2 separate regions of the Homo sapiens genome follow, and region 2 is linked to region 1. Evidence: fine-mapped expression QTL. A gene starts in region 1. The other region holds a variant in brackets. All regions are shown on one strand. Distances are between the middles of the regions. Region 1 holds the start of SPMIP4 (sperm microtubule inner protein 4). Region 2 holds the start of LOC124901603 (a long non-coding RNA gene).

Region 1 (12,092 bases):
TCCTTAATGGATATGTTTGTTTGCCCTGTGAGCTGAGAGAACTTGCTAGAAGTTAAGGAGAAGTCAGCTGAATGAAAAAGAGGATAGGAATCTTGATGATTTTGAGTAGCTGTTCCTGCCAGTTAAATTTTCAACAGAAGAAATGAGAAAAAATTACCACCTGTTTATATACTTAATATTTTTAATGGAGATCAAGCAAGTTTATATAAAATAGTGGCTAGCATAATTGTCCCAAAAAATCCACTTGAGTAAAGTAATTAAAGTGTAGCAACTAACTTGCTCTTGGTCATCAGGTAAGCCAGATCCATAGTCCTGGTTTTCTTATATTTTCAGTGCTGCTAGCCCAGTAGTTCTCAATGTAAGCTGAAAAACTAAAAAATGCAGATTCCCTTGCACCCCCTCAGACCTGGGGAGTCAGAATGTCCATATATAGAGGCAGCCTGGGAATCTGTTTTTCTAGAAAGCTCCTCAGGTGATTTTGAAGTACCCTGTCTGTAGACCAGTCCTGGGTAACAGGGGAGCTAGGCCGTGTCACCTATTTTTGTATTGTTTTATTTTGTTTTGATTTTTGAGAAAGAGTCTCGCTCTGTTGCCCAGTCTGGAGTGCTGTGGTGTGATCTTGGCATACTACAACCTCTGCCTCTAGGCTCAAGTGATCCTCCCACCTCAGCCTCCCAAGTAGCTGGGACCTACAGGTGTGAGCCACCACACCTGGCTAATTTTTGTATTCACCTCACCTATTGTGAAAAGAAAAAAAAAGTAGGCTGATGTGAGGAAATCGTTTTGCGTCACTGTTAAAACTGCCAAGTGAGTGCCATGATGGCTGCATCTAGGTTGTAGGTATGGCCTACATGATCTAAGTTGTACCTGGATACATCATGATATTGAAAAAGGGTGTCCCTTTAAGTACATCTGTGTTTAGAAAATTAAGCTGCTGAGTGCAAACGTATGCTAGGGCTCACGTTCACCCTTACCATTATGAAGGTAATCCTGAAAAACCAGGGGCTTTCTGTTTTGTATTGTTTTATTTTGCTGTTGAGATACCTTGTGATTCAAATTGGGAGCCACGGACCCTGCACTTGGTCTGAAGAAGTGAGGCTCAGCAATGATAGAACAGAGTTACCACCAGTATCCTGTTATCACCGTCCAGAGCCGTTCCATCACTAACACTGAGAGGAAAGACACTCTTTTGTAAGCTGTCTGGCTGCTTTTTAAGAGGGGGTTAAGAGGAGGGGTTCTGAGAACACATGATCATCCTGGTTTTCTTAATCTGGTGATTGTGAAAGGAAAGAATTCACGTGAAATAAAAGGGAAAGCAAGTTGTAGTTATTAGGAGCCAGGAGCATGGTTATACCTAGATAGAGCTTCAAATAATACCTTTTTGTAGTTTATAGTTGGCCATATATCGTGTTGAATTTTATAGTCAGTTAACAAAAAACGTGCTTCTCTTAAATTTCATGCCAGTTAAGGGTTTTGGAGCTGATCACTAACCAACTATAGGACCGTTTAGGTAGAGGGGATCAACATTTCAGTGAAAAGCCTTTGACAGTGCTTTTTGATGGTGCATTCAGATATGGCAGCCCTAAATTCTTGGATTCCTTTAGGCCAAATATAAAACCTCACATTGCTGTTTTTGAGCCAGGGACAACTGCCCATTCCCAGATCACACACAATCCACTAAGGGTTTTATTTGACTCAAGGGAAGCTCTGCCTAATGTGATAACCCTTGGAGTTGAACAGGAATTTAGGGCTGAAAACCACTCTTGTGAATCAGGTCAATGGTAGAGGAGTAGGGGCAGCAAGGACTGACCCAGAAGTGACAAGAGCTCCTTTTCCTCCAATACAAGAATATTTCTTTTCATTAAGTGAAAATAGCAATTGATTTAAAAAATGTTGAATATGATCTTTACATTTAAAAAAATTGGAGAGGACACATATTAAGATGTTAACACAGTGGTTATTATCTCTGGATAAAGGAAATATAGAGGGCTTCTTTCCTGTGCTTCATTTTCATAATTTTTCTGTTGGAAAAATAAAGAATTTGTTTTCCTTACAAATTTCTATGATTTCTACATTATGAGGAATGTGTGTTAGTTTTATAATTACGGAAAAATCATTCTTTTTCTTTATTAGTATAAAGAGCATGTTTGTAAACCGGAGAAGATCTGTGGAAGTCTGATCGAGATGGTGAAAGGCTAAGCGCAAGAAGAAAAAGGAGCTGAATCTGTGAGAATCAGTGTTTAGTCTGGCAAACAGAATTCTCACATGGGACAAGAGAATCTTCAGATCTTGAAGGGCTGCTAGCATGGGATGATGAATGACTATTCTGCATAGCTTCAGAGGGAAGAACCAGAATCAGCAGGCAGAAATTACAAGGGAAAAATTGTTCACATTAGAAAGAAAATGATCTAACAATCAGGAGCATTCAAAAATGGAATGGACTGCCTGGTGTGGAAGTGCTATCCTTTTTGGAAGAGTTTAAACTGAGGCTGGGTGACTTCCCGTCTGGTTTCCTAGAGAATTCTTAAATGATTGGGAGGCTGAGGCGGATGGATCACGAGGTCAGGAGATCGAGACCATCCTGGCCAACATAGTGAAACCCCATTTCTACTAAAAATACAAAAGAATTAGCTGGGCGAGGTGGTGTGTGCCTGTAGTCCCAGCTACTCAGGAGGCTGAGGCAGGAGAATTGCTTGAACCCAGGAGGCGGAGGTTGCAGTAAGCCGAGATTGTGCCACTGCACTCCAGCCTGGCAACAGAGTGAGACTCCGTCTAATAAAAAAAAAACAAAAAAACAAAAAACACAAAACAAGTAGACAACCACTCAGGCTATTTTTTCACTGTCCAGGTGTTTTGAGGTGTTTTTTCCTTTTCCTTTTCTCAAAATGATTCAAGTAAATACAATACAGGAAATGCTGACACTAAGATCTTGGCAAATTACTTGTGTGTATCTGTTATTTCATATGTAAAATGCAGATAACAGTAGTACTTATAGGGTTGTCATGAGGATTAAAAGAATTACTACATACAAAGCATTTGGTAGAGTGCTGACACACAGTAATCACTAGATAGGTGCAATTATTTTCATTGTAATTTTTTTTTTTAAACTTTTTTTCTAGGTTCAGGGGGACATATGCAGGTTCATTATACAGGTAAATTGCATGTTGCAGTGGTTCAGTGTACAAATTATTTTGTCACCCAGGTGATAAGCATAGTACCCAAGAGGTAGTTTTCTGATCCTCACCTTCCTCCCTCTCTCCACCCTCAAGTAGGCCTTGGTGTCTGTGGTTCCCTTCTTTGTCTCCATGTGTACTCAATGTTTAGCTCCCACTTATAAGTCAGAATAGGTGATATTTGGTTTTCTGTTCCCGTGTTAGTTTGCTTTAGAATAATGGCCTCCAGCTCCATCCACGTTGCTGCAAAGGACATGATCTCGTTTTTTTATGGCTGCATAGTATTCCATGGTGTATATGTACCATGTTTTCTTTATCCAGTCAACCACTGATGGTCATTTATGCTGATTCCATGTCTTTGCTATTGTGAATAGTGCTGTGATGAACATACTTGTGCATGTGTCTTTATGGTAGAACAACTTATATTCCTTTGATAGAACAACTTATAAGAACAACTTAGAATCCAATAATGGGATTGCTGGGTCAAATGGTAATTCTGTTTTGAGTTCTTTGAGAAATCACCAAACTGCTTTTCATAAATTAAATCATAATGTATAATTAATGTGTTACAGGGAATTTGGTGAAGCAAAAATTTACACAAGTATAAGCAGCAAATTCTGGGAGTATTTTTGGGCAGATGGTAGAAGGGCATGTTAGGGAACCAATACAGTACTATTTATAAAAGTCTTTGCTTACAACATATTAATTTCCCAATGAAGGAACGGACCATTCTAAGATTTTAGAATGTAGTGGATGAATTTGATGTGTGGCTTTTATAGTAGACAGCCACTTACTTCTCGAGTTCCTTACAGACACTTGAAGGTTCAGATAATTGCCACGTTTTGCCTTCCCTATTATATGATAAGCAGAAGAGCCCCGGCCCGGCGCAGTGGTCACGCCTGTAATCCCAGCACTTTGGGAGGCCGAGGTGGGTGGATCATTTGAGGTCAGGAGTTTGAGAACAGCCTGGCCAACATAGTGAAACCCTGTCTCTACTAAAAATGCAAAAATATTAGCTGGGCATGGTGGTGCATGCCTGTAATCCCAGCTACTCTGGAGGGTGAGGCAGGAGAATCACCTGAACCTGGGAGGCAGAGGTCCCAGTGAGCCGAGATCGCACCACTACACTCCAGCCTGGGCGACAGAGCGAGACACCGTCTCAAAAACAAACAAACAAACAAACAAACAAGAAACAGAAGAGCCCCAGAACAATAAATGTTTTTCCTCACATAATAAAATACACGAATACATTAAAACTGCTTTTTCTTGTTTGCTTTTTCTAGTTTTTGTTTTACCTGTCCTCTGAGGCAGTTGGGCGAGTAACCGTCTGGAGGGGGTTGTGCAATTCATTAGAGTAAAAGGTGTTGGACAGTATGTCAGCTCCTTCAAGCTCCCTGCAACAGTAGGGCCTGCCGTGAATGACTTCCATGCTTCTTGGCTAAAAAGGCACAACCTGGAAAAGAAAAGGAGGGCACATTTGGCTTGTCGAGTCAAGGCAGGCAGAAAACACATTTTACACTGCTAAATTGTTCAACCTGACGCTGCACAGACGTCACAGGCTTCCCTCTGCACTGAAAGCCGTCAAATCAGTAATAAATAGAGACCTAAATAAGTTCTATGGAAATAAATTTCAACTGAAACAAATCCACAAAGTGGACGGTGCCTCCAAGTAGTCACCAGAATGATCATCCAGTAGGTTCGTACCAGTCCGCTACTTTGTGGCCATCAACTGACATTCAATTCCTGCCTTAAATTTAACTATAACTATTCAAGAAAACTCACTTGACTTTTAGCCTGTGGTCTTTCCGAAAATTAGAGACTCTTCATTCAACAAAATAAGCGCTGTCCTAAAGCCTTCGGGGATTCTGGACAAGAATCCCTTTGCAGATGGTGGAGTCAGTAGTGCAGCACGAACGGGACCCTAAAGGGGATTCCCGGTTTCCAACTGCGTCGGGGAGAATCCCACCTCTCTCTCGGACTTGGGGGAAGGCCAGGAGCCGGCGTAGCTGGGACCAAGGGTGCCAGGGGTCGAGGCCGAGCCTCACGGGCTGTCACTGCCCTGCAAGCGGTGCCTCGGGGGTCTGGACATACCTGGGACATGAGCCTGGGGGCGCTGCGGGACCGCGCCTCCCCTCCCCTCCCCGCAGCTGGCGGCCTTCGCGGGCCGAGGAATTTTGAGGTCGTCCGCACCTACGGCCCGGTGGAGCTGGCAGGCAGGGGCGGGGGCGGGAGAAGGACGGCGGGCAGGCCGGGGTGGGGTGGGGCTGGGGGCGCTTGTGACGGTGGCCGTGACCGCGGCATTAGGTGATGCGTCCTTGAGGGGCTGGGGGCTTCCGGGCGGCGAGCGGGGCGCAGTAGGAGGCTCTTAGAGACCTCGGAGGAAACCAGCCCAGCGCTACGGGACTGGCAAGAATGCGAAGAGGAACCGAGAGTGAACGGAGTGCGAGGCGCCGGGTCGGAGGCGAGAGGGGCTCTTCCGCCTTGCGACCCCTGGCCCCGCCTCCCGGTCCCTTGCCCCGCCCCTCTCGGCTCACCGCCCTGCCTCCAGTCGGACCCCGCCTTGCCCCACCCGCGCCCCGCCCCCAGGCGCCCTCTAGCGGCGGCGGCGATGGCGATACCAGTTTCTTTTTCCAGGGCTACCAGGTCTGGAGCTGTCTCAGGGCCGGCCAGGGAGCTCTCTCATGTGGACTGGGCGGAGGAGGAAGAGCTCCGGTCCAGTGGAGTCCCTGGTGAGGTCGGAGCATCCGACCTGTCCTCCCTCCCCAGGTCACCTCGCAAAAATTGGGGACAGTGTGGCCAGATAGAGGGTGGAGTCTGCAGGATTCTGAAACTGCAGCCCCTGGCATGGCGCCCTAACAGAGTCTCTGCTCCTTCCCTGGTGGGTGCGGACATGGCAAAGTCCTTTACTTGCCTCGTCCCCAGGGCCTAGCCCCACCTTGATTACCTCAGTTTTCCCCAAAAGATACAAATGTGAGCCATGAATCTGCACCTACAGGGTCATGAGTTCCTGTGATGGCTGACAATAAGGGATGTCACCCCCCCCTCGCCACCTGCCACCCCATCAAGGAATGGGATGTGAGGAGGTTAGGTTGTGTGTATATGTGTGATATGGTTAGGCTTTGTGTCCCCACTCAAATCTCATCTTGAATTGTAATACCCATAATCCCCGCTTGTCAAAGGAGAGACCAGGTGGAAGTAATTGGATCATGGGGGCAGTTTCCCCCATGCTGTTCTCGTAATAGCGAGTGAATTCTCACGAGATCTGATGGTTTTATAAGAGGCTCTTCTCCCTTCTCCCAGCACTTTTCCTTCCTGCCCCCTTGTGGAGAAGGTAACTGCTTCTCCGTGGCCTTCTGCCATGATTGTAAGTTTCCTGAGGCCTCCGCAGCCATGTGAGATTGTGAGTCAACTAAACCTCCTTCGTTTATAAATTACCCAGTCTTGGGCAGTTCTTTACAGCATTGTGAGAAAAGACTAATACAGTGTGGGAGGCTAGAAATGAGCCTGCAGGAACCAGAAGGTGAGGGTGAGAATGACCACCTCTGAGAAGAAGGGCGTTGAAACTGTGTGCCAAAGAGTTAAAGAAAACAGTCATAGAAATTCTTGAGTTTACAGGATGGCAGATAAAAGAAACAAATTGCTGAAATGCTGAAATGCCTGGGCTTGTAGGTTAATAAAACTGGCTGAAATCCACTGGAACATATAAGGCCAACTAGAGTCTGCACAGATCCAGCTTGCTGACCTTACAGCTGAATTTCTACTGCCATGTTTCATACTAACTCCTCACTGAATTTGCACGTGGAACCCTTAGGTAGCATGAAGAAATAAGAGCACATGCGCAAGGACTTTCCAGACTTCCTCTTTCCTTCCACCAAGCACCTGCTAATCCCAGAATCCACACTCAAAACCATTTCTAATAAAATAATTGTCCTAAAGCCAGCACAGGGAGACAGATTTGAGCTGGACTTCCTATTTCTTTGTTGGTTGACATGCAATAAAAGTTTTTATTTTATCAAAAACCCAGTGTTATAGTATTGACTTCTAGTGCCTCGGGCAGCGAGCCTCCTTTGCTTGGTAACAGTATGATGGTGCCTTTGCTATTCTCTGCCTACTTTACAACTTTCTACTAACCAACCAGTGGGCATTCATTTTGTGCTGTGCCTTCTATGTGAGTGTTACCTGGAGTGGGGGAAGAAAGGTGTATTGAAGTAGGCACAGTGGTAATTTTGTAGTCTTGGTTTATTTCTTAGTTCCTGCACCTCTGCCGACCTTCCAGTAGTTACCACCCACTAAGCCTAGAGGAATAGATCCTGCTGGAGACAGAGTTGTGTATTAGGTGAAACTGGCTTTTATCTTTGACATCTTTATTTCCCCTCCAATTTCTGGTAGTTCATTGTAAGCTTTTGCCCCTTTTCTGCTCCTCTGTGTTCAGGATCTCCCATTAAATTCCTTGTCTCCCCAGCCCATTTCATGTCCCCAGTCTTCCAGTACTTTCTATACTTCACCTTTTTCTCATCCTCAACCTTAGTCCTATTTTCCCATGGCTTGATTCTTCCTGGGAGGAATAACTGAGCATGATAGATTTAATCAGAGGCATCTGATGAAGATGCATCACTAGCCATGTATGTACATGGATGGTAGTGACACCGGAGAAAGTGTGTCAACTCCAGGTTGAATGATCAGGATATGCCATGTGATAGCCTCCAGGTTCTAGGGGATTTGAAATTTTATTTTAGGTCAGATGAGTGTAAAAGGCAGATAAATGTAATTATTTTTATCTTTATCGTTTTTCAAATAAAATGTACCGGCAAGAAAAATTCATTGTCAGATCGTTGTAAAACAATTGTTTTCTTTGAAAATGCTTCTCCATCTGAAATTTTCAGGGATATCAGGATTGGGTCTATTTGTTTGACCAACACTCGTTACTCTTAGCTTTTGTGATTTAACTCACTCCATCTCAGCCAGGATGTGATCTCAACAACACAAAGTAGCCTCCTACCCAGGGATGCTCAAGTGACGAATTTCTTAGGTATAACATGGCCAGGGGGCCAGTAGCCTCAGATTGCCTTCTTTTGACTTCTCACATGTTGATCTTGTCACCACCTCATTTTGCTAGTAATCCTTCAAGCAGGGAAGATGAAATTTGGCAATGAAAATAATATATGCTTAGAATACTGTGGGTTGATGACAATTCCAAATCACAGTTAGACCTTTCACCTTCAGGTAAAGAATAAGTAGGAGGTAGATAATAACATAAAGCATGAATTACAGTCTATAACCTTTCTTTTAAGTCTGTTATAGAGACCAGTAAAATGAATGAAGAGACCAGGAACATGATTTTTTTTTTCTTTTTGAAACAGAGTCTCTGTTGCCCAGGCTGGAGTACAATGGTGTGATTTTGGCTCACTGCAACCTCCGCCTCCCCGGTTCAAACAATTCTCCTGCCTCAGCCTCCCAAGTAGTTGGGATTACGAGTGCTCGCCACCACGCCTGGCTAATTTTTTGTATTTTTAGTAGAGACGGGGTTTTGCCATATTGGCTAGGCTGGTCTCAGACTCCTGACCTTAGGTGATCCGTCTGCTTTGGCCTCCCAAAGTGCTGGGATTACAGGCGTGAGTCATGCACCCGGCCCAGTGAATATTTTTTACATGAAAAAACAATTTGGAGTCTGGTGCCTTGCTTAGAAGATGTGTTGGAAAGTGTCTCAGTAACGTTAAAATATGCATCTTTAAAAATTGAAAAACTTAAAGCCTTGTTGATTTCAGTATATGTATCTTCTTAGTAGGATGACAATTAAAAGTATGTATATTCTGCTGACTTTAAACTACAAATGAGTTAAATTACACTTTAATACTTTTTTGGTACTAAATAATTTAACCTAAGTTCAGTACTTTAAATTCTTCTCAAAACATATTTTCTTTCTTTCATAGTTGTTTATTATAAAAACGCAATCAGCTTTTTTGTGGGTGTCATTTCAATTTTTTTCTTGAAGAGGGTTATTTTTAAAGAGCATTGTAATCTCAACAGTCTTTATGGTTGTAGTCATGTCAACTATGATCAATTGAATAAGCCTAGAAATGTAATGTGCAGCACAAGGATTATAATATTCATAATATTGTATTGCATACTAAAATTTTTCTAAGAATGTAGATTTTAGATGTTCTCCTCCTCCAATAAAAAATTTACTGTGTGAAAAACAATAATAATTTTTTTTTTGCCTTGAGTAGCTAAGGAACTAGGTGGTCATTTAGTAGTGAACACTGAAGTGACGTTGATGCACACATTTATAAAATGTGCTATTTAGTAAACAGTTACCTAGAATGCATCAGGGGTTGTCCTAGCACCTACAATCTATGGGGACATGGAGCCATGGAGAGTCATAATCAGTGAGGTAAGTGCTCGACTGGGGCCAGCACTCTTGCTGTAGGGGTCCATGGTCACCTAACCAAGACTCTTGTGCTTCTGATATCATTCCCTTGGAAATGTCTGAAAAGCAATGTAAGGTTCTTCTATTTAGAAACATGATCATCAGGACCCTTTAGCGAGGTGACCCGGCCATGTGCCCTTGGTTACATGCAGTTGTTTGTCCTTGTGGCCTCCCTGGCATCTTTCCTTTTATCTTTCTTTGCATCTTCCTACATGGATATTCTAACATTTTGTCCCATGAATTTGAGTTCCTTCTGGGTAGCCTTTTTCTCTCTAATCTTAAACCTCTGCTCAGAAGACTCAGTGGTCAGTCTCTATTCCTCTGTCATGATTCAATGCTTTGAACTATGACCTATATACAGATGGCCCCATGTGCTATCCCTACTGCCTGGTTGAGTGAAGTTATGTAGAATATGTTTTCCACATATGTATTAAGTTCCACTACTTAAGTTTCTTCTTCACTGATCCACACACACAAATATGGATGAAACGTGTATTCGATAGAGAGGGTGGGCATGGCACTTCTAGATGCAACTGACAGGAAGACATGCTGTCCCCCGGGGGCTCCAGCTGATGAGGACAGTCCGGGAGCATCCTGTGGTGTCACATTCTGTACTCAGGGCATGGTGATACCTAGTCAGGGAGGGAAGATGCGGTAAGTACCCAGCATCTTCATCGCCTCCTCCCTCACCACTCGCTCTGTAACCCCAGCCACCGGGGACTCCTTCTCCATTTCCATAAACCTGACATTTCCAGAATGTCATGTCAACTGAATCATACAACAGGGAGCCCTTTGGGATTGGCTTTTCTTGCTCATCATAACTCTCTGGGGATGCATCCAGGGTGCGGCTGGGGTCAGTAGTTCCTTCCTTTTCGCTGCTGACTTGTGTTCCATGGTACAGATGTTCCACAATTTCTTTATTCATCCATGGGAAGAAATGAGGTTGTTTCCAGTTTTGTGATTATTATTATGAGTAACACTGTGGTACACATTTCTGGACAGTTTTTGTGTGAACATTAGTTTTCATTTTTCTGGCTCAAATTTGACTGCTGGGTCATATGGTACTTAGAAAATTATCACTTCCCCAGGTCTTTTCTTGAAACAAAATATTTAAGATAAATATTCTTTAAAGAGATAGGCAGCAAAGGTGGAAAACATTTTCTCTTTTTTTCATTGTGAAATTGTAAACATTCACAGTTGTATGTGGGCGTTTTTTGTAGGAAAATCAACCCATTGAAAGAGATAAAATACCCCTTTCCTCTCTTTTTCCTGTCTCTTACATCTCCCTTACCACTTCTGTCTTTTTAAAACACCTTGTAGATTCACCAGACCAGAGTACTTGGGTAGCAGTGCCAAGATCAAGCACAGTGATTGCCATAAGTAACAGGAGTTCACGAATCAGCTCACCATGAAGAAACTGCCCATTGTAGACTGTTCCTATCTCAAAATAGTTGGCTTTCCAGAAAGCCAACTCTAGTGGCAGACTCGGTTTTTAGCCCACAGTACAACTTGCAGCCTCTTGGTTTGGTGTGCAGAGTTGTTTTTTTTTTTTTTTTTTTTGAGACACAGTCTCACTCTGTCACCCAGGCTGGAGTACAGTGGCACAATCCGGCTCACTGCAACTTTTGCCTCCTGGGTTCAAGCGATTTTTCTGCCTCAGCCTCCTGAGTAGCTGGAATTGCAGACGTGCATCACCACACCCGGCAAATTTTTGTATTATTAGAGACGGGGTTTGCCATGTTGGCCAGGCTGGTCTTGAACTCCTGACTTCTGGTGACCTGCCTGCCTCGGCCTCCCAAAGTGCTGGAATTACAGGCGTGAGCCACCACGCCTGGCCAACATTTTTAATAATTGCGGCAAGTCAGCAAGAACACAGAGGAAACAAGAGGGTGTGAGTGAATTGTCCTTCTGTCTGTGCTGTGGTAAACAAAAGCAGTGGCCTCACAGTGAAAGTAGGATGTGAGCTACTCTTCTAGGGGAGGGGAGTGGTTGTGAGAGAGTGGTTGTGTTTTTATTACTTCTACCCAAATTCCTCCAGCTACTCCCTCCTCAGGTTTTCTGTTGTTCTTTTACTTTAGAACAAAGGCCCTCAGCATTAGGATCCAGTACAGGAGTTGGCAAGCTCTTTCTCCAAAGGCCCAGATAGTGAAGGTGCCAGGCTCCACGGGCCACATGCGATCATACAGTCTCTGTTGCATGTTCTTCTTTCATTTTACAACTCTTTAAATGTGGAAAGCACCCATTCCTAGCTCACTGGCTGGAATGCGTGACTCCCGATCTAGGCAAAAGACTGTCTTCTGTCTGGTGAAAGAAACAAGTTGTTCATTTATTCTGCCACGAGTCATGGGTCTTTGTTTGGTTGTCTATGCTTTGCTGTGTTTGCTGTGAGATTACTTTTTGTATCCTTGGTGTTACACGGAACAATCCCATCATTTGAAGACTTGACTGGAACCCTGTAAATGAGGACTTGTATGGATTACCATTGTGTTATT
Region 2 (12,092 bases), 26 kb before region 1:
CATCTCTTTTTCTTTTGTTTCTCATTTTTATTTAATATTTTAGAATTTAAAGCATTTAATTAAACAAAAACCAACTCATAAATTGGGCAGTCGCCAAACCAAAATAGGTTCAGAGACTCTGCCGCCGCCAGGTGGTGGAAGAAGGTTTATGGACAGAAAAAGGAAAGTGACCTATAGAAAACAGAAGTGAGACACAGAAACAGCCAGATTGGTTACACCTTAATGTTTGTCTTATTTGAACACGGTTTGAACAGTTGGCTGCCTTTGATTGGCCAAAACTAGGTGATTGGCACAAGAGTAGGTTACAGTCTGTTTATGCATCCAGTTAGGCTGCAGTTCATTCTGTATGGAGAAATCTTTAGGCCAAACTTAAAAGACATGAGGAGGTAGCTGTAGGCTATACTTAACAATTCCCCCTTTCTGGTTAGTGGGCAACATAATGAGACTTCATCTCTTAAAAAAAAATCCTTTAATAGGAATAGAACATTGTAGATAAAGAACACTGTAGATTACCTCCCCAATTAAATGACAAAAGGCAGGAAAAATAGGAAGGACAAGTATAGGGTATTATCCTAGAGATTAGAGAGAAAAAAAGGTGAGTCATGAGTTACTCCCACGAAGCTCAGCATCTATTTTATTTTTACTTCTTTGTCCAGGGAAATGCAAAACTTGATTAGAGTTAGGGATGAGCCAGAAGAAAATGTGAAAGGTTGAAAATTAAGAGCAGTTAATAAAGATTAAGAAAGTGGGATTAATCATCAGAAATAAGAAATAAATAAATAAATCAGCCAAAAATATTTATGTACAATGCACTGTGGGGATATACACATAACACATTCTGTTCTCAAATAACTCATAATTTAATTGATGAAATATGAAATACGTGAAAAGTTACTGGTTACAGTATGTGTGGCAGAAGTCAGATGAGGGAGATATCATTTCTGCTGCTGGAGTAATAATAATGCCTTATAAATTATAGTATTTTCTAGTTTTGAATCTTTCATATGATCCTCTTATCTTGTGAAATTTACAGGACAGATTTTTAGTGAAATTACCCAGATACGTTTTATGAATTGAAGCTCAGAAAAGGGAAATAATCTGCCTAGTATCACTCACACAGTAAATGGCAACAGAGGAGTGACCAGCAAGCACACAGGCCTCCTGACCTGGTTCTCTTTGCTACATAACAGAAACAAAGAGGGTTGAGCTGAGCCTTGAATTAGCAAGTGTTGGGCAGAGAGGCCTTGGGAGGAGGGCATTCCAGGAAGGGAAATGGCATGAACCTGTTTGGGAACCAGTGGGTGGGGCCAGGCTGCAGGCTGGAGGTAAGGGCAGATCCTGAGGGGTCTCTGCACCTCAGTTAAGGCATAGGGATTTACACTCAGGCAGAGGGGAGCTATTCAGGATGGCTGCCAAGGAATGTGACATGAGGAAAACAGGATTTTAATGACTAGGAAGAAACTTAGCTACAGATCTGGAGCCTTTGGCTATAAGAACATGTAATGATAGGATGGGTTCTAGAATAACTCTCATATTTCTGGGTTGTTTAGATATAGATTTTGCTTAAAAACTGAAAGAGATCCAGTAAAACAGACGCTTCGTTAGGACTTCTTTTTGACATTTAACTATAAAAAAACAAACGGGAAATGACTTACTTTATAGATGACTCTGTGACATGGCGATGACCACATGCTGGGCCTGTCACAGTGGTTTGCCAGGTAAAATTCAAATGTTTTCAACCTCCCAAAATTATCACTTGCCTATCTCATGGATTGCTGGATGCCAAGAGATAATATATGGAGAACACTTGGCACTGCTTCTCACCAACCATGTTAGCTATTATTATTTTCAAACGTCTAGATATTTTCCCTCTTGATTTATAATTTTCTCTTTTTATCCATGTGGAGTTATGGGACAGAGGTTAAGGTCAGAGACTAGAACTTCACAAACCAGATTTCTGTGATCATGACATAGTCACAAATTCTGAGTCACAGTTTCCTTATCTATAAAATGGAAATGATGATGCTAACCTTAGGAGGTTATTGAAAGGGTTAAATGATGTATTTAGAGTGGTTAGATGTGTAGCAATTTCTCAATAAATGGTGGCTATTGCTTTATTTCATTTTAAACTTGACACCAATATGATAATAATGGCTGGAACAATAATAGCTTGCAAATCTTTCTGGAAATCTCCCATTTACTCTCTGCATATTTGGAGTGACTGGAGGTATTATAAGTTGTAAGAATAGGGTTGGAGGAACACAGTGTGAGAAATGCAGCCCTCCTCCACCATCTTCCTGGGGGCAATCTTTTTTTTTGGTAACTGTGGAATGTTCCATAACTACCAACAGCACATGAAATCAGCTAAGAAAACTGAAAAATGTAAATCATAGTCAAAATCTCAAATTTTACATTCAGATAGAAAATGAAAATAAACTTTTAGATTTTTTTTTTTTTTTTTAAACAGAGTTCACTCTGTTGCTCAGGCTGGAGTGCAGTGGCATGATCTTGGCTCACTGCAAACTTCACCTCCCAGGTTCAAGCGATTCTCATGCCTCAGCCTCCCGAGTAGCTAGGACTACAGGTATGCACCACCACACCCGGCTAATTTTTGTATTTTCTAGTAGAGACAGGGTTTCACCATGTTGGTCAGGCTGGTCTCAAACTCCTGACCTCAAGCAATCTGCCCACCTTGGCTTCCCTAAGTGCTGGGATTATGGGCATGTGCCACCATGTCAAGCCTAGATTTTTATAAAGGTATTGACTAAAAATATTTGTTACTTTCCTTTAAACACACATTTAAAAAGATACTTACATCATAATATACACCTTGACCTGGCCAAGTCAGTGCTTTCTTCTTTGAATCCATGGGAATATCAATCAGTTCATATCTATAAGGATTACCTGAAAATTTCAGGAAAAGCAATAAATAAGAACAGTCTTTTAGAGGATTAATAGGTACAATAAATAGAAATGAGATAATACAAGGTAGAGATGGATGTTGGTGTACATTTTACCTATGTAGTTACAGCTTTAGAGAGATTCAGCTTGCTCTTGAATTCTTTTTATTTTTTATTTTTTTTAAGATAGCGTCTTGCTATGTTTCCCAAGCTGGACTTGAACCCTTGGGCTCAAATGATCTTTCCACGTCAGCCTCCTGAGTAGCTGGGACTACAGGGCAGGGCAGGCCACCACACTTGGCTTGTTGCTCTTGAATTCTTGAGCATGTGCAGGAGCAGCATGTGGGCCACACAGAGTGTGAATGAGTCTTTAACCCTAGTGCTCTCAGTAGTAATAGGAGTCACTAGTACTTCACCTTTCTTCTTAATGAGAGAGATCTTAGGTAAATAGTAAGTGTTCCTGGATCCTCTTTCTGATCTTTTTTTCTGGCCTCTGGGGGCTCAACAAATACATTTCTATATTATCTGTTTTGGCTTTTCTCTGCCTAAATATCAAGTTTTCTGAAACTGAGTTAGTACTTGCTTACCAAAAAGGTATTGAAAGGGAACATCTTAAACAATACAGCTTTTTAGATTTTGTTTTATATCTGATAAGCTTTACCAAACAGCATGGCTCGCTTTGCTCTCGTGATAAGTTTCAAGTTAAAGAATGTTCTGAACACCCATCTTCATATGTAATAAGAACAAGGGCTGGTGTTTATTGAACACTTACCATGTGCCAGTCACTGTACTGTTTTATATACATCATCACATGCAATTTTTAACATTACTATAAGAAAGGTACTGTTATTCCAACTTTAGTGAATAAAGAAATTGAAGCGGAGAGAGAATAAGTGATTTGTCCACATCTCAAAGGTAGAATTCAAACTCAGGCAATCTGATTCTAGAGTCTGCACTCTTAACTTCCTAACTTCTTTCCTTCCTTCCTTCCTTCTTTCCTTCCTCCCTCCCTTCCTCTTTCTCTCTCTCTTCCTTTTCCTCCCTCCCTCCCTCCCTTCGTTGTCTCTCTTTTTTTTTTTTTTTGAGACAGAGTCTCTCTGTCACCCAGGCTGGAGTGCAGTGGCATGATCTCAGCTCACTGTAACCTCTGCCTCCTGGGTTCAAGAGATTCTCATGCCTCAGCCTCCCAATTAGCCGGGACTACAGGCATGCACCACCAGGCCTGGCTAATTTTTGTAGTTTTACTAGAGACAGAGTTTTGCCATATTGCCCAGGCTGGTCTCGAACTCCTGGCCTCAAGTGATCTGCCCACTTTGGCCTCCCAAAGTGCTAGGATTACAGGCATGAGCCACCACACCTGGCCCATGCTTCTTAGTTCTAATAAAGAAGAATTAAAATAAGTGGAAGAGTAGAAACCTAATGCTGTACTAGTTCCTGGAAAGATTTTTTTATAAGGGTTGTTAGAGGATGCTCATCTTTTAAAAATTCCCTAATAGTGACTGAATGGTTGGAGAGAGGTAGAGGCTTGGAAGAGCAGGAAATTAAGATGACAACTTGTTTTTTCAGTCCCTTATGTTACTGCACTGAAAAGTGTTTTTATGGGCTGGCCATGGTGGCTCATGCCTGTAATCCCAGCACTTTGTGAGGCTGAGGCGGGCAGATCACTTGACGTCAGGAGTTCGAGACCAGCCTGGCCAACATGGTGAAACCCTGTCTCTACTAAAAATACAAAAACTAGGTGGGTGGGTGGGTGTGGTGGCACGTGCCTATAGTCCCTGCTACTTGGGAGGCTGAGGCAGGAGAATCACTTGGACCCGGGAAGCAGAGGTTCCAGAAAGTGCCACTGCACTCTAGGCCTGGGCAACAGAGCAAGACTCCGTCTCAAAAAAAAAAAAAAGTGTTGTTATGAATTCAACACATATTTCTGTGATTTCTTGCTAACTATGTGTACTTCAGATAATTTCAGAAATTACTGAATTCAGGATTGAGAAAAAGAAATCTACTTTGACAATTTACGTAACAAAGTCATAAAAATTTTACTTGTTTATGTATCATACTTA[T/C]CATTTCCTTTAGAACATTTATAGTTCTTTTGCATGGCACCATCTCTCCCCACTTCTGCTATAGAGCTAAGCATGGTGCTCGATACTAACAGCCAGTATACTTGATACAGCTTTCACTGCCTTTTTCCAATGCTGCCTAGTCTGAGAGGCAATGGGAAAGTTCAGCATGGTACACACATACTGCAGTCATTATACGCTAGCAGGGTAAGAGAATAACTGCTAACATTTATCTCTGTTATTTGATAAGTAGGTTCTATTAATAATATTCCCATTTTGCAGACTGCGAAGCAGAACAGAGGAGTTCAGAAACTCTCCCATGGACCGCAGGTGAGTAAGTGGCAGATCCAGAATTCTACTCATGCAGTCTGACTCTAGAATCCATGCTCTTACATATTCCACTATGTTAGCTTTCAAAACGTTACTGTCTGCTAATAAGACACCGAGGTTGAGGCTGACGATGGCAATATTCTGTCCTTGCATTTTGGTCCAAATATTCATGTATAGAGGAACTGCAGGATAGGACAATTCTTGAGTCTTTTCTACCTCACCTAAATGCACTCAACAAATATTTGTCTTTGCCTACCATGTATCATTTCTGTCCCTCTCTCAAGTGTTTTCACTCTTTCTCCAGAGGTGGCCTCTCTGTTTACGCACATGTGTAGGACTCCTCAGCAAAGACCGAGGTGTCTAGTGTGGGAGAGATTCGATGACTAGTGTACGGGATTCCTGATAAAACACATTCACAAAGACTCCAAGGTTTGCAGCTGGGAGAACCTGCTCCAGGGTGTTAAGAAGGACTGAACAAACTACTCCCATTGCTTTCTGCATCTTATTTCAATGGGGATCTTTCAATTCTATCACTGCTGCATCCACGTCCAGACTCTGTGATTGATGCAAACACTGTCCCTTGTGCTGATCACCTGGGCTAGGATGAAATTTTTAAAAGCTAAACCGTGAGAGCAGGAAAGAAATAAAAATAGAAAATAGAAGTGGAATAAAAACCACCAATTCTACAACGTTTTGGTTTCTGATTGTAACATGAGAGGCTGTGTCAAGGGGAAAGTTTGGGAGCACCTGCAGAGAGTCTGATTTGATGGGTCCATGGTGGCGCGCCAGCTGATTTGTAAAGTCGCAGCTGTGAACAAGTTTCCTGATCTATTGAGTCACACATTTGTGACTTGAGTCCTTTGTGCTCCTTGCTTTAATTTTATTATTGAAGAAATCCCAATAATAAGAATTAATACAGTTCTGATTCCAGGTCACATTTTACCTCTTGTCTTCAAAACTGTTGAATCATAAGCCTTGGTTGGCACCGTGGGAGGAAAGGGCTGCTGGGTGCGGGCTTTAATGCCCGTGTAGAGGTCCTCAGGTGACGTGAAGGTGGGGAACATGGCGCCGCGACAGATGTGTGTGTGGTAGGGGTGTTCAATTGGATATGGCAAGCAGATCTCTCTAAGATTTATTGAGGAAACAAAACAAAATGAAAAGAACAGAAAGAAGTATGGTTGAAAAAATTAATCATCAAAAATTTATTGGGACCCTTTTTTAAATGGCAGAAACTGTTCTAATGCTGGGGGATAGGACAGTGAGTCAATGTCCCTGTGCTCATGGAATTAGCATTCTCTTGGAATGTATACCACAAAACAGGACATTTTCTTAATTTTGCTAGACAAAACTAAATTTAATTTTAAAATAAATCATGCCCAATTCTTTGTCAGTGAGTAAGTTTCATAACTCGTATAAAAAATATAAAGCAAAAAATAAATGAGTTTTGTGTTTGTAGAATGGTATAGTTGCTTTTAATTACTGTGTCTTATTTTAAGAGGCTCCCAGGAATTGTTTTGGGCATTCTGCTTCAGCAAAGTGATCTCTAACCATCTTTGAATGAACTTTCAACCCAGGCCATCTGTTTCTTTAAGCAATCAATCAACAATCAACAATCAACAAAATATAACCCCTGTTTATATACACAGTACTGCTTCAAAATCAAAAAGCCAAAAACAGCTAGCACACTGAAGGAAAAAATAAACATGTTAAAGAGACCATAGGGATATAATTTTCCTATCATTTGGAGAACTGGCAGAGGTTAAAAAAAAACCATGTGGGAGCTGTCTAAACTAGAAGAAAAGCAAAATTAGGAAGTCCATGGGATAGAGAAATGTTATTCATAACAAGAAAATTAAGCAGAAAAAAGCAAGACCAAGTGTTTATGTGTTGAATTCCTCCCTTCCGCCCTCATCCATATATTGAAATCCTAGTCTCCAGGGCCACATATTGTAACCTTGTATGGAAATAGGGTCATTACAGATATACTTAGTTAAGACCGAGTTATTCCATACTGGAGCAGGGTGGGCCCCTAACCCAAGATGCCTGGTATCCTTTTAGGAAAGGGAAAGTTGGACACAGACAAACACCTGAGGAGGATGCCATGTGAAGATAAGGCAGAGATCGGGATGATGCATCTACAAGCCAAGGAGTGCCAAAGATCACCAGCAAAGCCCAGAAGCCAGGGGAGAGGCACGGGACAGAGTCTCTATCACAGTCCTCAGAAGGAACCAACCCTGCTGAGGTCTTCATCTCAGACTTCCGGCCTCCCACCTTGGAACTTGCCAGGCTACAAGCAGAAAGGTGAATCCAAGAAATATGACCTAACAAAAAGGACTTTACTTTTCAAACTGTTTATGAAGAGAATTTGAAAAGCTCAAGACAAGGGTTCTTCACTTTGTCGTTTTTTAAAAAATAGAAAGACCAAAAAAACCTAGAAGTTAATTTTAATAGCCTTTTGAATAGGTCTTTAGCTGAAACACAATTTTTTAAATGGCAGCTTAATAATTTCTGTTAAGCTTGATAGAGGACTCCTGTGGCACGGAGGATACTGGGTGCTCAGATCTCGGCTTCTAACACCTGTCCCCAATCAAAGGAGTCAGGGTTTCTGGGAGTTATTATTACTATTACTATTATTTTTGAGACAGAGTCTTGCTCTGTCATCCAGGCTGGAGTGCAATGGCAGGATCTCAGCTCACTGCAACCTCCGCCTCCCAGGTTCAAGGGATTCTCCTGCCTCAGCCTCCCAAGTAGCTGGGATTACAGGTGCTCACCACCACACCCAACTAATTTTTTGTATCTGTAGTAGAGATGGGGTTTCACCATGTTGGCCAGGCTGGTCTTGAACTCCTGACCTTGTGATCCACCTGCCTCGGCCTCCCAAAGTGCTGGGATTACAGGCATGAGCCACTGCGCCCGGCCACTCTGGAAGCTATTATATAAGATGAGCCTGGATTATTGCAGAGTGACAGAAAGAAAGGAAATGCTAAAAGGAAAAAAAAAAGAAAGCCAAAACCCCACGATGATGGGGAAATGTCAAAAGAATATAGGAGCGAACTCAAAGAGCTCCTCATTGCCAATCTTAGTAACAAAAGAAAGTGGTATTGGATTGCTACCTAAGTACTAAAGCACAAAATAAATTTCCATGAGTCTATACTGAGAGAAATAAGTGATTGAATAAATAAACAAATGGAGTGGAATCGATACATCTCCCATGTAGAATGCCAAATAATTTATGCAGGTAGTCTGCTTTCAAGAAGGTGGAGTATAAATCCAGATGCCTTAAGTGTGGGCTGCACACAGACACACAGAGAACTTCTTCTAGAGTGCAGTGTGGAAAGGAGGAAAGAAAGAGTGTGTGTGCAGCGGGGAAACCTGCTGAGGACACCTCTGCCGGGCAGTCAGGGTTAACATCACCAGGGATAGATCATGCCAACGGCATGTACCCTTGCTACGATGCGATGAAAACAGAACTTTATCTCTGTGGTCTTCCTTCCACAAATACATCATCCCAGTCTAACCATAAGAAAAATGTCAGTCAAAGCCCAATTTGGGGGCATTCTACAAAATATCTAACCAATAATCCTAAAAATTGTCAAGGTCATTAAAACAAGGGAAGTCTGAGAAACTGTCACAGCCAAGAGGAACCTAAGGAGAGATGGTGACTGAATGTAATGCGGTACTCTGGATGGGATCCTGGGACAGAAGAAGGACATGAAGGAAAAACTGAGGAAATCTGGATAAAGCATGGATTTTGGGTCACAGTGATGCATCAGCAATGTTTCATTAATTGTGACAAATGTGCCATATTAATGTGAGATGTTAACAATAGGGGAAGCTGCGTGTGATGTATATGGGAACTCTCCACACTATCTTCTAATAATTCTATAAACCTAAAATTATACGAAAATAAAACATTTACTAAAAAAGATTTTCAGGGGATATAACAGGAGAGAAATCAAAGTAATGTTACCCTGGACTTGTACCAGCCTTTCCTTCCAACTGTTAAGACATAGTTTTCAGGCCAGGCACTGTGGCTCACGCCTGTGATCCAGTACTTTGGGAGGCCGAGGTGGGCGGATCACTTGAGCCCAGGGGTTCAAGACCAGCCTGGGCAACATAGCAAGAACCCATCTCTACAAAAATTACAAAAATTAGCCAGGCATAGTGGTGCACACCTGTAGTCCCAGCTACTTGGGAGGTGAAGGTGGAAGGATCACCTCATCCCAGGGAGGTCAAGGCTGCAGTGAGCTGTGATGGCACTACTGTACTCCAGCCTGGGCGACAAAGTGAGACTCTGTCTCAAAAAAAAAAAAAAAAAAAAGAAACGTTTTCATGGGAAGTCTCACTTGTTTTCACACTTCTAAGACATAGGAAATGTCAATTTTTTTTTCTTTGATTATAACAGAGAAGGAAAATATAAGTTATTTACTTACCCTACTGTTGAATTAGGCGGCTTGGGTATCCTAGAATAAAAACAGGAAACAAGTTCTAACTTATATTGAGGGCTTTTAAAGGTTTATATCCCTATTAGAAACTTGATTAATGATATAGGCTGGGCATGGTGGCTCATGCCTGTAATCCCAGCACTTTGGGAGGCCAAGGTGGGCGGATCGCTTGAGCTCAGGAGTTCGAGACCAGCCTGGGCAACATACAAAATAGAAAAATACCAAAAATACCAAAAATACAAAAAAAATTAGCTAGGCATGGTGGTGCATGCCTGTAATCCCAGCTACTCAGGATTACCCAGGAGGTGGAGGTTGCTGGGTGACAGAGCAAAAGTCTGTCTCAAAAAAAAAAAAAATAATAATAATGATATACCCCATTTTCAAACTGTAATGTCATTAAGATAATGTTCTTGATTAACTTTCTGGATTCCTGAATATTGACAAGACAGGCATATGTTGTTTCCTTATCTCAGTTGTCTGTTGATTAATTTTTCCATCCATTTATTCTAACCTCACCACTGTTTCTGCATTTTCCATTTGTGGTGAAGATACAAGGGATGACTACTTCTAATGATAAGAGAGCTCTGGTTCTTTCTGACCTTTACTCTCATAGTCAGGCAGTAGCCAGAGTGCTCTGAGGAAGCCTGACGTTATACATGGGGTGCAATTTCATAGCCTAAAGTGACGCGAGTGTGGCCCAGCTGGAGAGGATATTTAAGTACCATGTATGCTTTCTACCTTTGCTCTGTGTTGCTGATCTCTCATGATAGTAAATGTTGCCCGGTCAGCAGAGGGAATAGAACAAAACTGACCAAGTTCCTGGAAGCATGCCTTTTCTGAAGCAGTTCATTCCAAGGCTGTGCATTTACTAATTACTCCGAACCTTGCATGCCAAGAAATAATCCTGTAGCCCTGGAAAAAAGTCGACTAAAGACGGGTAATCATCCACCTACATTGGATTTCAACAATTCGTTTCAGCCTATGCAAATAAAATTCTGAAAGATTCCAGGTGTGAAAAATGAACAGAATGTTATCAATTTGATAGTAAAAGTCAGTAAAATTGAATACACTGTTTAATTTTTTAGATGTTCCTCCATGCTAGCAGATACTCCCTAGAAAGTGGCATGTAAGCCATATAAATTTATTATCCTGTAATGTATTATAAACACCTGACTCTCATGAACTATAAAAGTTTATATCTTTTTAAATTTCAACTCTAAATCTGTGGGCACGAAACTAAAAAAAGCATGTTCTATCTTCCATCAACATCACTGAGTTGGAAAGATGGTGGGGGCACAAAGGGCAGGGAAGTGATGAATATATGAATCCAAGGAATCTAGAGTTGTTATTAATAGATTGGCAACTATATATAATACATTAAGCTAGCATCTAAAATTATTCTTATGTGACAAATTCCACTACAATATTGATAAGCATATGCCTAAAAGCATATGCCATTTTGATTTGATTCGAAATGAAAAAAAAAAATAAATTTAAAATATAAAATCTTTTTTAAAACTTCAAGATCTGAAAAGATAAAATGAAAGTAACAAATGCTGAGACACCTCTTCCTTGACCTAAATCAGCCCATTAATTTTACTGCCACCCTTCACATCTGCTTTGCAAAAATCACCAAAGGGATAAACCGAGACAACCACAAATTTTGTCTTTTTGGCGCCATCTAGTGGCTAACTTCTATATTAAATTTTTACCTATCAACAACTAGTACTTCTTAATAAAGAAGTGATAGTTCCATTATTACTTCTATGCTGTCGTGTTTAATATTTATTTGTTTGTTTGTTTGAGATGGAGTTTTGCTCTTGTCGCCCAGACTAGAGTGCAATGGCGTGATCTCGGCTCACTGCAACCTCCGCCTCCTGGGTTCAAGTGATTCTCCTGCCTCAGCCTCCCTAGTAGCTGGGATTACAGCCGCCTGCCATCACGCCCAGCTAATTTTTATATTTTTAGTAGAGACAGGGTTTCGCCATGTTGGCCAGGCTGGTCTTGAACTCCTGACCTCAGGTGATGCACCCTCCTCAGCCTCCCAAAGTGTTGGGAATTACAGGCATGAGCCACTGTGCCCAGCTGTGTTTTATTTTTATCTAAAAATAAAAATGTATGCTTTTGTAATGTACACGACAAACTATTTAAAAGTGTAACAAAATAATACACTTGAAAAGAATACCTTTAAGTGACGGGTAAATTAACAAGTATGCCTTACGTTAAAAATAATACTTAGGAAGTGTTATTAAGAGTTATTTGTAGATGATAATAAAAAACTTCTATCCTTGTAAAATTCTGGTTGAAAATTTATTGAGGGCCACTATGGCATTTTCTATTGATATTTTAATAAATGTAGC

Evidence for each region.
Region 2: its variant is fine-mapped to the expression of SPMIP4 in whole blood (INTERVAL, PIP above 0.99). The same link has a PIP of 0.9 or more in blood mononuclear cells, lung, monocytes, nasal epithelium and tibial nerve.

What each region holds. Positions count from the first base shown.
Region 1 is chr7:25,174,707-25,186,798 of GRCh38, forward strand. SPMIP4 (sperm microtubule inner protein 4) reads right to left here and starts at 5,648. Exons shown (of 10, transcript NM_138811.4): 1 at 4,956-5,648; 2 at 4,469-4,626. The coding sequence starts at 4,602. All of the region lies in intron 1 of LOC124901603 (a long non-coding RNA gene), which reads left to right. LOC124901602 (a long non-coding RNA gene) reads left to right here and starts at 1,108. Exons shown (of 2, transcript XR_007060260.1): 1 at 1,108-1,191; 2 at 2,134-2,925. RefSeq lists silencers at 5,154-5,433, 5,494-5,883.
Region 2 is chr7:25,148,781-25,160,872 of GRCh38, forward strand. It overlaps SPMIP4 (sperm microtubule inner protein 4), which reads right to left. Exons shown (of 10, transcript NM_138811.4): 5 at 9,721-9,750; 6 at 6,231-6,412; 7 at 2,816-2,904. LOC124901603 (a long non-coding RNA gene) reads left to right here and starts at 5,238. Exons shown (of 3, transcript XR_007060261.1): 1 at 5,238-5,287. The variant T/C (reference allele first, on the strand shown) is at 4,961.